Homo sapiens: one gene and its partners. The protein of the gene in region 1 purifies or fractionates together with the protein of each later gene. This does not show direct contact. Each region holds a gene or a part of one and is shown in the gene's direction. Other genes may lie near its edges.

Region 1 (3,645 bases):
TTTGAAAATAGTGACAGACTCTTGCTGTGTTGCCCAGGCTGGTCTTAAACTCCTGGCCTCAAGTGATCCTCCTGCCTTGGCCTCCCGAAGTGCTGGGATTATAGGCATGAGCTACCATGCCCAGCCCCATTTTTCAAATGAGAAAACAAAAGTCAGGCAAGGTTAAGCAATTTCTCCCAGGCCTTACAAACATTTCATAGTATCAGAGGTGGCATCTGAACCGAGACAGCCTGGCTGCAGAGTCCAAGTTCTTTCCCATGGTGTGATCTGAGCTATGATCATGCTGCATATCTCAGGGATGCTTCTCTACTCAACAAACATCTACTGAGCATCTGCTGGGCCAGGCACTGTGCTGGGCTCTGGGGACATAGCAGTGAAAAGGACAGAGATGACATTCTGATGGCAGAGACAGACAAACACATTATAAAGTAAGGTCCTTTTGGGCTGGTCACGGTGGCTCAAGCCTGTAATCCCAGCACTTGGGGAGGCCGAGGCCGGTGGATCACCTGAGGTCGGGAGTTCGAGATCAGCCTGACCAACATGGAGAAACCCCGTCTCTACTAAAACTACAAAAAATTAGCCGGGTGTCGTGACGTGTGCCTGTAATCCCAGCTACTCAGGAGGCTGAGGTAGGAAAATCGCTTGAACCTGGGAGGCAGAGGTTGCAGTGAACCAACATTGCACCATTGCACTCCAGCCTGGGAAACAGAGGGACACTCCATCTCAAAAAAAAAGTGAGGTCTTGAGGTCTTTTTGGACTAAGTGTTAGGAGTTAATACAACCACAATAGAGAGTGATTTTAATGACGGTAACACAAGGGACTCACTGTGCCAAGCAGTATTTTTATTTTTTATTTTTATTTGTTTATTTTTTGAGACGGGGTTTTGCTCTTGTTGCCCAGGCTGGAGTGCAATGGTGTGATCTCGGCTCACTGCAACCTCTGCCTCCCGGGTTCAAGTGATTCTCCTGCCTCAGCCTCCGGAGTAGCTGGGATTACAGGCATGCACCACCACGCCTGGCTAATTTTTTGTATTTTTAGTAGAGTCGGGATTTCTCCATGTTGGTCAGGCTGGTCTTGAACTCCCAACCTCAGGTGATTTGCCGCCTCGGCCTCCCAAAGTGTTGGGATTACAGGTGTGAGCCACTGCGCCCGACATTCTTTATAATTTTTAACTCATTTCATCCTTATGTCCTCCCATCAGAGTGCATACTGTTATTTAGCCCATTTTATGACAAAGAAAGTGGCTGGCACACGCTTTCTTGAGTCTTCTGCTTTGGGGGTATCAAAACCTATAACTGGGCCAGAGGCAATGATCAGGCACAGAGAGGGTGAGTAACTTGCCCGCAGTCACACAGGTGGCGGAGTGTTGCTGGCAGAGGGAACAGCAAGTGCAAAGATAGGTGTAGTCACCAGAGACAGTGGGTATGAGGTTGTTTGAGGCTGAGTTATCCAGACATGAGTGGGTCCCCAGCAGGGGCAGCAGAGACAGCGGGGCAGGTGTGCTGGCTGGATAGACTGCTGCGTGTTTGTGTTCTAGGAGGCCAACGGTCCTGCTGATGGCTACGCAGCCATTGCCCAGGCTGACAGGCTGACCCAGGAGCCTGAGAGCATCCGCAAGTGGCGAGAGGAGCAGAGGAAACGGCTGCAAGAGCTGGGTGAGGGCGGGGCTGAGGCGGGGTTGGCTGGGTGGGCTGTGTGTGGGGTGGAGTGTGGGGAGTCCTCGGAGTGCATGGGATGCTGCATGCCTTAATGTGGGACTGGGCCGGTGCGGCCCTGTGGCTGCCTGGCAGGGGCCAGGGGAGGAGCGCGGCCGGGCCTGTGCATCCCAGCTGGAAAGCAGCCACTCATTCTCTTGTGGGGTCCTAGATGCTGCATCTAAGGTCACGGAACAGGAATGGCGGGAGAAGGCCAAGAAGGACCTGGAGGAGTGGAACCAGCGCCAGAGTGAACAAGTAGAGAAGAACAAGATCAACAACCGGTGAGAGGGCTGTAGGGACATGAGGGGGCCATGGGGACATGAGGGGGGCTGTGGGGACATGAGGGGGCCGTGGGGACATGAGGGGGCCATGGGGACATGAAGGGGTGGGGACATGAGGGAGCTGTGGGGACATGAGGGGGCCGTGGGGACATGAGACGGGCTGTGGGGACATGAGGGAGCTGTGGGGACATGAGAGGGGCTGTGGGGACATGAGAGGGAGCTGTGGGGACATGAGAGGGAGCTGTGGGGACATGAGAGGGGCTGTGGGGACATGAGAGGGGCTATGGGGACATGAGAGGGGCTGTGGGGACATGACTGAACACTGCCCAGTGCTCCCTGCCTTTGAGGCTCTGTCCTTCACGGTACAAGGTCTTCCAGGAAGGGAAAGGCCTGTTCTGGGAAGCTACCCTTCTGTCTAGGGAACTGCTGCATGCCAGGCTCTGGGGTAGGCACGGAGGAGATGGAGATAAGGAGGACCCAGCCTTATGTCCTCAAAGGGCGCAGAGGAGAAAAACACACATGTTCAACTAAGCTCAAATACAGTAGGGCCCTCTGCACGAAGGCCATGGAAGCAAGGAAACAGGTCAGGGAGAGACCTCTGTGTCTTGGGACTTGGGCTTTGGAAGATGACTAGGAGGAAAAAAGGGAAAAAAGGGCAGGAGGTAGGGGGGCATTCTAGACCTGGGTACGAAGAAAAAAATGTGATGTATTAGGCAACAGGGGGCCAGGGAGCGGTGGGAGAGAAGGCAGGAACCTGTGGACTCACACTGTAAGGGCCTTGGCTGATGAGTTGGGCAGTGACATGGGCAGTGGGGAGCCACTGAAGGTGTTTGAACAGGAGTAACATGATCAGGGATGAATTTTAGAGAAGGTGCTGGGGCCAGGGTGAAGGTCCCCATTCTCCTGTTTGGGGCTGTGGGTCGTTGCTGAGCCTTCCAGAACTATGCTTCCTAACATTTCTCCCACTGGAGGTACTAATGCTGTCTCTCTCTCTCTCTCTAACCTTCTGCCTGCCTGTCTGTCTTGCCATCTGCCTTCCCCCACCTAACCCCTTCCCTCAACCTTTCCCTCAAGGATCGCTGACAAAGCATTCTACCAGCAGCCAGATGCTGATATCATCGGCTACGTGTACGTGTCTGTTTTGCTTCTCTGTTGGGGGAGCTAGAGAGGGAATGGCCACCACAGTTTCTTGAGTTTCCTGCTTGTGGGATATAAATGAGTGTGGCTGGGCTCGGAGCAATGGTCAGAACAGGAGGCAAATGCCCTGGTGGGTGCAGGCAGCAACCACCTCCCTCCCTCCAGTGAAGTGGAGGCTGCTTGGCTAAATCAGAGCCTTGCAGGATAAAGGCAGAGAAAGGAATGTGCTTGCCACTTATTCCCATGTGGGAGGGGCAAATGGCAGAGCACCCCAACTCCCTCCCTCTGTGATGTCTCTTGGTGGGTGTGTGGGGTGAAGGGTTTTTTGTTTTTTGAGATGGAGTTTCGCTCTTGCTGCTCAGGATGGAGTGCAGTGCTGCGATCTCGGCTCACTGCGACCTCCACCTCCTGGGTTCAAGCGATTCTCCTGCCTCAGCCTCCCGAGTAGCTGAGATTATAGGCACATGCAACCGTGCCCGGCTAACTTTTGTATTTTTAGTAGAGACGGGGTTTCACCATGTCGGCCAGG
Region 2 (3,745 bases), on another chromosome or scaffold:
CTACTCAGGAGGCTGAGGCAGGAGAATTGCTTGAACCCGGGAGGTAGAGGTTGCAGTGAGCCAAGATCATACCACTGGACTCCAGCCTGGGCAACAGAGCTAGAGTCCATCTCCAAAAAAAAAAAAACAAAAAAAACAACAGGAGATCCAAGAGATCCCCTGAAACCTGCCTTTGTTCCCTGCTCTAACCTAACCACCACCCCCTCACACCCCTGCAACAATTTCTCCACTAGAGGGCAATAAAAAATCTTGAAAGCTGCAGTGGGGTAGAAGAGTTGCCCAGAGGCCTGGCCCTTAATTCTAACACCCTACTCCCCTGGCCTCCCCTCCAAAGCTCCTTGACAGTTTGGGTCTATCACATTCTCTGAGCCTTAACATCTTCCTTCAAGCAGTGACCATCTCCAGCTAGGGTCCTTACTCCCAGTTTCAGCAGAGGAAACTGAAGGACTGTGACTTGCCCAAGGGGAGCCAAGGCCTCCCCCAGCTCATCTGCCTCCTTAATGTCACAAGGGGCCCAGGGCTAGACCATATGTGGCTGAGGCGGGGAGCCCAGGCTCTGTCCTCCAGTGTGGCATTCTCACTGCGCTTGTGGGGAGCCTTCAGCTGCCCTACCTTGTGAAGCCAGAGACCTGGGGTTGGGGACCCTGAGGATTAGGTCTGGGGCTCTAGCTGCAGGAGCCTGGCTGAGATCCTTCATTGCCTAGGGGGGTCTCCTTGATGGGACTTACTCAGGACCCCAGGGGATCGGTTTGGAAGGGGCAGTCCTATATAGGGGTTAGGGATGGCAGGGCCAGAGGTCCCAGCCTCTGGCGAGGGGCATTCCCTGGCCTCCTCTGCCCTGGTCCCAGTCCTTGGGTACTGAGAGGGAGACTACAACAAGGAAGCACTAGGACAGTCTACTTACTCCTAAGATGTCACTCATCCTACAACATTCATCATAAGACCAGTCGCACCCAGAGCCGTAGTGAGGCGGGTGAAGCTGCAGATAGATAGATGATAGATAGATAGATAGATAGATAGATAGATAGATAGATAGATAGATAGATTTTTTTCTTTTTTACAAGAGTGTCTCTCTGTTGCCCAGGCTGGAGTGCAATGGTGCAGTCACGGCTCACTGTAACCTCCACCTCCCGGGTTCCAGCGATTCTCCTGCCTCAGCCTGTAGCTGGGACTACAGGCGCGCGCCACTATGCCCGGCTAATTTTTGTATTTTTGGTAGAGACGGGGTTTCACCATGTTGGCCAGGCTGGTCTCGAACTCCTGACCTCAGGTGATCCACCCCCCAGCTCAGCCTCCCAAAGTTCTGGGATTACAGGCATGAGCCACCGCGCCCGGCCGATAGTTATATTAATCCTTTCTTTCATTTATGGATCTCAGGAAAAGGGCAGACTTGGTCGGGAGAGTAGACCCACCAGAGCTTCAGATTCCAAAGCCCTCCGGGTCAGGGTAACTGCGGCAACCAGAGCCCCAGCCCTCTGGTCTCGCACGTCACTGGAGGATAGGGGCTGGGCCACGGGAGGGCGGGGCGCGCCCTCTGGAAGGCGCGGAACTGCTGTGCGAGCCGAGCGCGTTGCTGCCCGGAGGCTCCTACGCCACGGCCCGTCGGGCCCGGCGCCGGAAGTGAGCTGTTCCGAGGCGCCGCCGGGAGCTGCCACGTCCGAGACCTGGAGCAGCCACCGCCGCAATCATGGTGAGTGTTGGTACTGAGGAGGCCTAGCAGGGTGAAGGCCACGGTCGCGGCCTTCACGGGTTCCTCGGCCGTCCTGAGTCCCAAATCCCAAGCTGGAGCCGTTCAGCTCCCCTCCACCGCTTAGAGATTTGGGGGGCTCTGGCCCCGTCCTTGCGGACCATTCCGAGGGGAGTCCAGAGGTGAGGCCGAGGAACCTCCCTGACTTTGCGGGGCGCGCCGCTCCTGCGTCTCCTGCCAGTCTCCCTTCCTTCTTTTCGGTCAACAATTGAAAACAAAACGAGGAACAGCAGAGGAGCTACTGTATACCGAGCCCTCAGCATTGTTCGTAATCTCCGCCTGCTAACAGCCTTGTGAAGAAGGTGCTATTCTTCTCAACACTTTACAGATGAGGACACTTGAGGTTCGGAGACGTGGAGCCTCTTGCACAGCTGCTTAAGTGGTAGTAGAGCCGAGATTTGAACCCTCCTAACCATTCCTTTCTGCCGCCTACTGCAGCTCCCAGCAGAGATGATTGAACTGTTGCTCGGGGTAGGGCCCCCAGGTAGGATGGGCACCTCGGGAAACGTAAAGATGGCCTGAACGACCCTCCGAAGGCAGGGGCTCAGGGTTTTTTAAGTCTCTGTGGCATCTGCAGTGTACATTCACTCCACACTTACTCCTTGAGTGAATGAATGACTGAAGGAGAACTAAAGAATGGAAGTATCTGGGCTGAGCCTGGAATATCTAGTACATGCATTCTTTTAGAAACATGGGTGTGTCTCAGCAGCAGGTTTGAGGGAACCTGCAGGAACCTAGAAATCAGAACACTGTGTTCTTGTTCTGCAGAGGGTTAGGTGTAAATCACTCACCTCTGGCTCTTCCACTGCAGGTTAGAGTTGAGGCTTTTATGCTCTGACATTCAGCTCATCCTAAATGAATTTTTAACTCATTATCTGATCTCAAAGAGGTGAATTATTTTGAGTGCAGGTGTTAACAGGGACCAGATAATACCAGGTCCCTGGGAAGAAGTACTCTAAGAAGTTCTCTCTCTCTCTCTCTCTCTCCCCACCCTCCCTCTCTCCCCACTCCCTCTCCCTCCCCCCTTCCTCTCCCTCTCCCTTTCTCTCTCTCCCCCTCCCTCTCTTCTCTCTCTCTCTCCCCGCTCCCTCTTCCTCCCCCCTTCCTCTCCCTCTCCCTTTCTCTCCCGCCCTTCCTCCTTCCTTCCGTCCTTTTCTCTCCCCCTCCCTCTTTCCTCCCCCCCCCCCCCCCCCGCCTTCTCTCTCTCTCTCTCTCTCTCTCTCTCTCTCTCATTCAGAAGTGTGGTTCATCAACCCTGACTGGTGGGTGAGAGTGGTTAGAATTAAATGCTGATTATTTCTAAGGTCCTTTGGTAACCTGGTTGAAACTACCTCTCAGTAAACTTTCTTCGTGAACCTACTTAACCGCAGCTTTACAGAACTCAGTGTAACAACTGCTTTACATTCTAGACAGGCAGCCTGGTGGAGTGAAGTTTTGTGGACTCAGCATTAGAAGGTTAGGGGATGGGGCTCTTTTCCCAGGTCTGCCTTGAACTAGCTCTGTGACTTTGGCAAGTGCTTTCTCTTCTCTGGGCTTCTTCATTTCCTTAGTCTGTCGCAGGTCTCTGATTGACTGTGCCCTTGGTACCCTGCCCTCCCCGCCTTCCTGTGCACTTTGTAACCTATACAGCTCGGCACATGGAGGAAACTCCTTATTGTCCTTACTTGCCTTTGCAGACTTCGGGGACCTGGTTTTTAGAGAGTCTAGAATCTGATGAGAGAACCTGTGCTTACTTGGTGTGTACCTCTTGAACTGCTTTGCAGCCATCCTCTTCCACTGTCTGCCTTTCTGAAATCACAAGTCAAACTTTATACCTACAGGGCTTGTGCTGGAAAAGATGAAATGGGGAAAATGGTAAGAAATGTCTGTTCCACACTGAAACTTCTTTTAAGTCCTCTTTTCTATCCCAAGAATTTAAGAGAAGAGTGGTTGAGCAAAGAAAAAAAATAACAGCTTTTGTTCATTTACTTATTCATTCAGCAAATAGTCGCTGAGTTC
Region 3 (3,645 bases), on another chromosome or scaffold:
CCCGAGACCAAGGCCACCATCCAGGGCGTCCTGCGGGCCGGCTCCCAGCTGCGCAATGCTGACGTGGAGCTGCAGCAGCGAGCCGTGGAGTACCTCACCCTCAGCTCAGTGGCCAGCACCGACGTCCTGGTCAGAGCCCTGTCCCCCCACCCCACCCCTCTTGCACACCCCCTTCCCGCCCTCCCCTCCTCCTGACCCGAACTGACCTTCCCCACCCCGACCGCGCCAGGCCACGGTGCTGGAGGAGATGCCGCCCTTCCCCGAGCGCGAGTCGTCCATCCTGGCCAAGCTGAAACGCAAGAAGGGGCCAGGGGCCGGCAGCGCCCTGGACGATGGCCGGAGGGACCCCAGCAGCAACGACATCAACGGGGGCATGGAGCCCACCCCCAGCACTGTGGTGAGTCCCCTGGGGTGGGCCCTGCCAGGGTGCCTGGGGCTGGGTCCTGCCGGGCGCCGCCTGTCCTCACCGTGACCTGCGCTTCCTACAGTCGACGCCCTCGCCCTCCGCCGACCTCCTGGGGCTGCGGGCAGCCCCTCCCCCGGCAGCACCCCCGGCTTCTGCAGGAGCAGGGAACCTTCTGGTGGACGTCTTCGATGGCCCGGCCGCCCAGCCCAGCCTGGGGCCCACCCCCGAGGAGGCCTTCCTCAGGTAGCACCCCCTGGGCCCGGGCCCCTTCTCGCGGCCACCCCCAGGGCTGTCCCTTCTCGGCCTCTGTCCCCGTTTTCCCTGAGCCCCTCCCCCGCCCCCGACTCGCTCCTCTCTCCATCCTGATGCCTTCGCCAGCCCTGGCTGCTGCCTCCCCTGCCCCAGCCTCCCTGCTCACGCCCTCCCTCTGCCACTCTGGACTCCGCCGACCCTGGCCACCCTTCGTTGTCTCCTTTCCTGTCACCGTTTCTCAGCCTGCTCTTCCTTTTCTCCTTCTCTCCTTCCCTCTTCCGTCCCTCCCTCTCTGTCTCTCTTCTGCCCTCTCGCTGCCTATGTGGAATTGGCTGCCTGCCACGCCTGTCTTCTCTTGTCTGCTCTGGGATTGGATGGCTCAGCGAGCTGGAGCCGCCTGCCCCCGAGAGCCCCATGGCTTTGCTGGCTGACCCAGCTCCAGCTGCTGAGTAAGGGGTGGCCTGGGGTGGGAGGTCGGTCGGGGGGGCGGACTCGGGTGTCCCCAGGGAGAGTTAGGGGACTGGGAGCCCTCGTCAACGGGTTCCTGATGAGCAGCAGAGGCAGGGACTTGGAGGAAAGGGAAACTTGGTGTCTGCCGATGCGGGGGCACGGGCCAGGGTTCTATTCCCATTGGAGGCCACTGCTGGATGGATGCGAGGTTCCTCGAGGCTCTGTGAGGGGTCTGGATATGTGGTTCTGGGGTTCTGTCCTTAGGGCTTGTTCTCGCACTCAATCGCTCTGGGCCTTTGCCCCTCCCCACCAAGTTCCTTCCCATCTCACTCTGCTCCATGCCTCCAGCCCAGGTCCTGAGGACATCGGCCCTCCCATTCCGGAAGCCGATGAGTTGCTGAATAAGTGAGTCCTGGGAGTGGTGGGGGAGGGGAACGGGACAGGTGCGGAGCCCAGGCCAGGTGCAGACAGGCACCCCCGTCATCTTGCGCCCCCTGCCCCCTCAGGTTTGTGTGTAAGAACAACGGGGTCCTGTTCGAGAACCAGCTGCTGCAGATCGGAGTCAAGTCAGAGTTCCGACAGAACCTGGGTGTGTCCCGGGGGACTGTGGGAATGGGTCGGAGGGAGACCTTGGGGAAGGGGTCAGAGGGACTCAGATGGAGCTCTGCCTCCCCCACCTACTGCAGGCCGCATGTATCTCTTCTATGGCAACAAGACCTCGGTGCAGTTCCAGAATTTCTCACCCACTGTGGTTCACCCGGGAGACCTCCAGACTCATATCCTCTCAGGCCCGGCCCAGCCTCCTGCCTCTCCACGTCGGCCTTCCTCACCGTGGGGAAGCCGGCTGACCCAGGTCCACACTTCTCTTCAGCCTCTCTTGGGCACGCAATTAGTTCTCTGAGATTGAGTGTCTGCATCTGTTAAGATGGGGGTGGGATTCCTTCCCCCAGGACAGGGGATGACAGTGAAGTGGTGTGTGGGAGGCTTTACTTCCAGAACTCCACCTGCTCCAGGCCTCATTTTGTCCCTGTCTGGCACCTTCCGTGTCCTGCCATCGTCCTCCACTGGGCTCCATGTCATGATGCCAGCACCGCCTGCACTCAGGAGCCAGGCCTGCGGGTCCAGACGCTGATCAGGCCTGATCTGGGCTGAGTCACTTTGCCTCTCTGGGCTCTCCTGTCCCCGCTGTGAAGTGTATGTAGACCCTCCTCTTCCTCATAGGGTTATTGTGAAGATCAGAGTGTCTGGAAAACCCTGGAAGGGCGGCTGGAGGTATCAGTCCCCCCTGCCCGTTCTCTGGGCCTCCATTGCCACATTCATGAAATTAGAAAAGCTCGACCTGAAAACTCCTTCTGGCCGGGCATGGGGGCTCACACCTGTAATCCCAGCACTGGCAGGCTGAGGCCAGTGGATCATTTGAGGTCAGGAGTTCAAGACCAGCCTGGCCAACATGGTGAAACCCCATCTCCACTAAAAATACAAAAATCAGCTGGGTGGTAGTGGCACGCGACTGTAATCCCAGCTACTCAGGAGGCTGAGACAGGAGAATCGCTTGAGCCTGGGAGGTGGTGGTTGTGGTGAGCCGAGATTGTACCACTACACTCCAGTCTGGGCGACAGTCTCAAAAAAAAGAAAAAGAAAAGAAAAAATTCCTTCTTCGGTCGGGCACGGTGGCTCACGCCTGTAATCCTAGCACTTTGAGTGGCCAAGGTGGTTGGATCACGAGGTCAGGAGATCGAGACCATTCTGGCTAACATGGTGAAACCCCTTCTCTACTAAAAATACAAAAAATTAGCCGGGCGTGGTGGTGGGCGCCTGTAGTCCCAGCTACTCGGGAGGCTGAGGCAGGAGAGTGGCGTGAACCCAGGAGGCGAAGTTGCAGTAAGCCGAGATTGCGCCGCTGCACTCCAGCCTGGGCGACAGCGAGACTCCGTCTCAGGAAAAAAAAAAAAAAAAATTCCTTCTTTCATAATTTCCAGAGGCTCGTGCAGGCAGCTCAGTGGAGGCAGTGACAAAAGAACATGAGACCCAGGCCTTCCCAGTGGGCTACTGACACGGATGCAGATGATGATAACACTAATTGCTACCATCTTTGTGTACTTACCATGTGCCGGGCACACAGACAAGTACTTGTGATGGATTCTTTTCTTTTCTTTTTTTAAATAGAGTTGAGGCCTCGCTATGTTGCCCAGGCTGGTCTCAAACTCCTGGGCTCAGTGATCCTCCCCACCTTGGCCTCCCAAAGTGCTGGATTACAGGCGTGAGCCGCCACACCCGGCTGGATTATTTCATCAACTCCTGAGGACATTTTACACATGTCCTTGTGTTGAGACAGGGCCTCACTCACCCAAGCTGGAATGCAGTGGCATGAACACTGCTCACTGCAGCCTCGAACTTCTGGGCTCAAGGCATCCTCCTGCCTCAGCCTCCCAAGTAGCTGGGACTACAGGTGCACATCACCATGCCTGGCTAATTTTTTTGTAGAGATGGGGTCTTGCCATGTTGCCCAGGCTTACACATGTCCAGAGGCTAAGAGA

What was found.
Region 2: the proteins of CLTB (region 1) and SEC13 purify together in Homo sapiens (affinity purification with mass spectrometry; 2 studies listed by BioGRID and IntAct, with this or other methods). This does not show direct contact.
Region 3: the proteins of CLTB (region 1) and AP2A1 purify together in Homo sapiens (affinity purification with mass spectrometry; 2 studies listed by BioGRID and IntAct, with this or other methods). This does not show direct contact.

Annotation. Positions count from the first base shown.
Region 1 is NC_000005.10:176,395,941-176,399,585, reverse strand, and holds part of CLTB (clathrin light chain B), read left to right. Parts: intron 1-1,538; coding exon 1,539-1,656; intron 1,657-1,867; coding exon 1,868-1,979; intron 1,980-3,053; coding exon 3,054-3,107; intron 3,108-3,645. UniProt on the Homo sapiens protein: Clathrin is the major protein of the polyhedral coat of coated pits and vesicles.
Region 2 is NC_000003.12:10,318,995-10,322,739, reverse strand, and holds the start of SEC13 (protein SEC13 homolog), read left to right. Parts: upstream 1-1,627; 5' UTR 1,628-1,687; coding exon 1,688-1,690; intron 1,691-1,698; exon of another isoform or gene 1,699-1,869; intron 1,870-2,075; exon of another isoform or gene 2,076-2,231; intron 2,232-3,423; exon of another isoform or gene 3,424-3,460; coding exon of another isoform or gene 3,461-3,601; intron 3,602-3,745. UniProt on the Homo sapiens protein: Functions as a component of the nuclear pore complex (NPC) and the COPII coat. At the endoplasmic reticulum, SEC13 is involved in the biogenesis of COPII-coated vesicles.
Region 3 is NC_000019.10:49,801,493-49,805,137, forward strand, and holds part of AP2A1 (AP-2 complex subunit alpha-1), read left to right. Parts: coding exon 1-129; intron 130-229; coding exon 230-397; intron 398-488; coding exon 489-649; intron 650-1,041; coding exon of another isoform or gene 1,042-1,107; intron 1,108-1,456; coding exon 1,457-1,513; intron 1,514-1,614; coding exon 1,615-1,697; intron 1,698-1,794; coding exon 1,795-1,884; intron 1,885-3,645.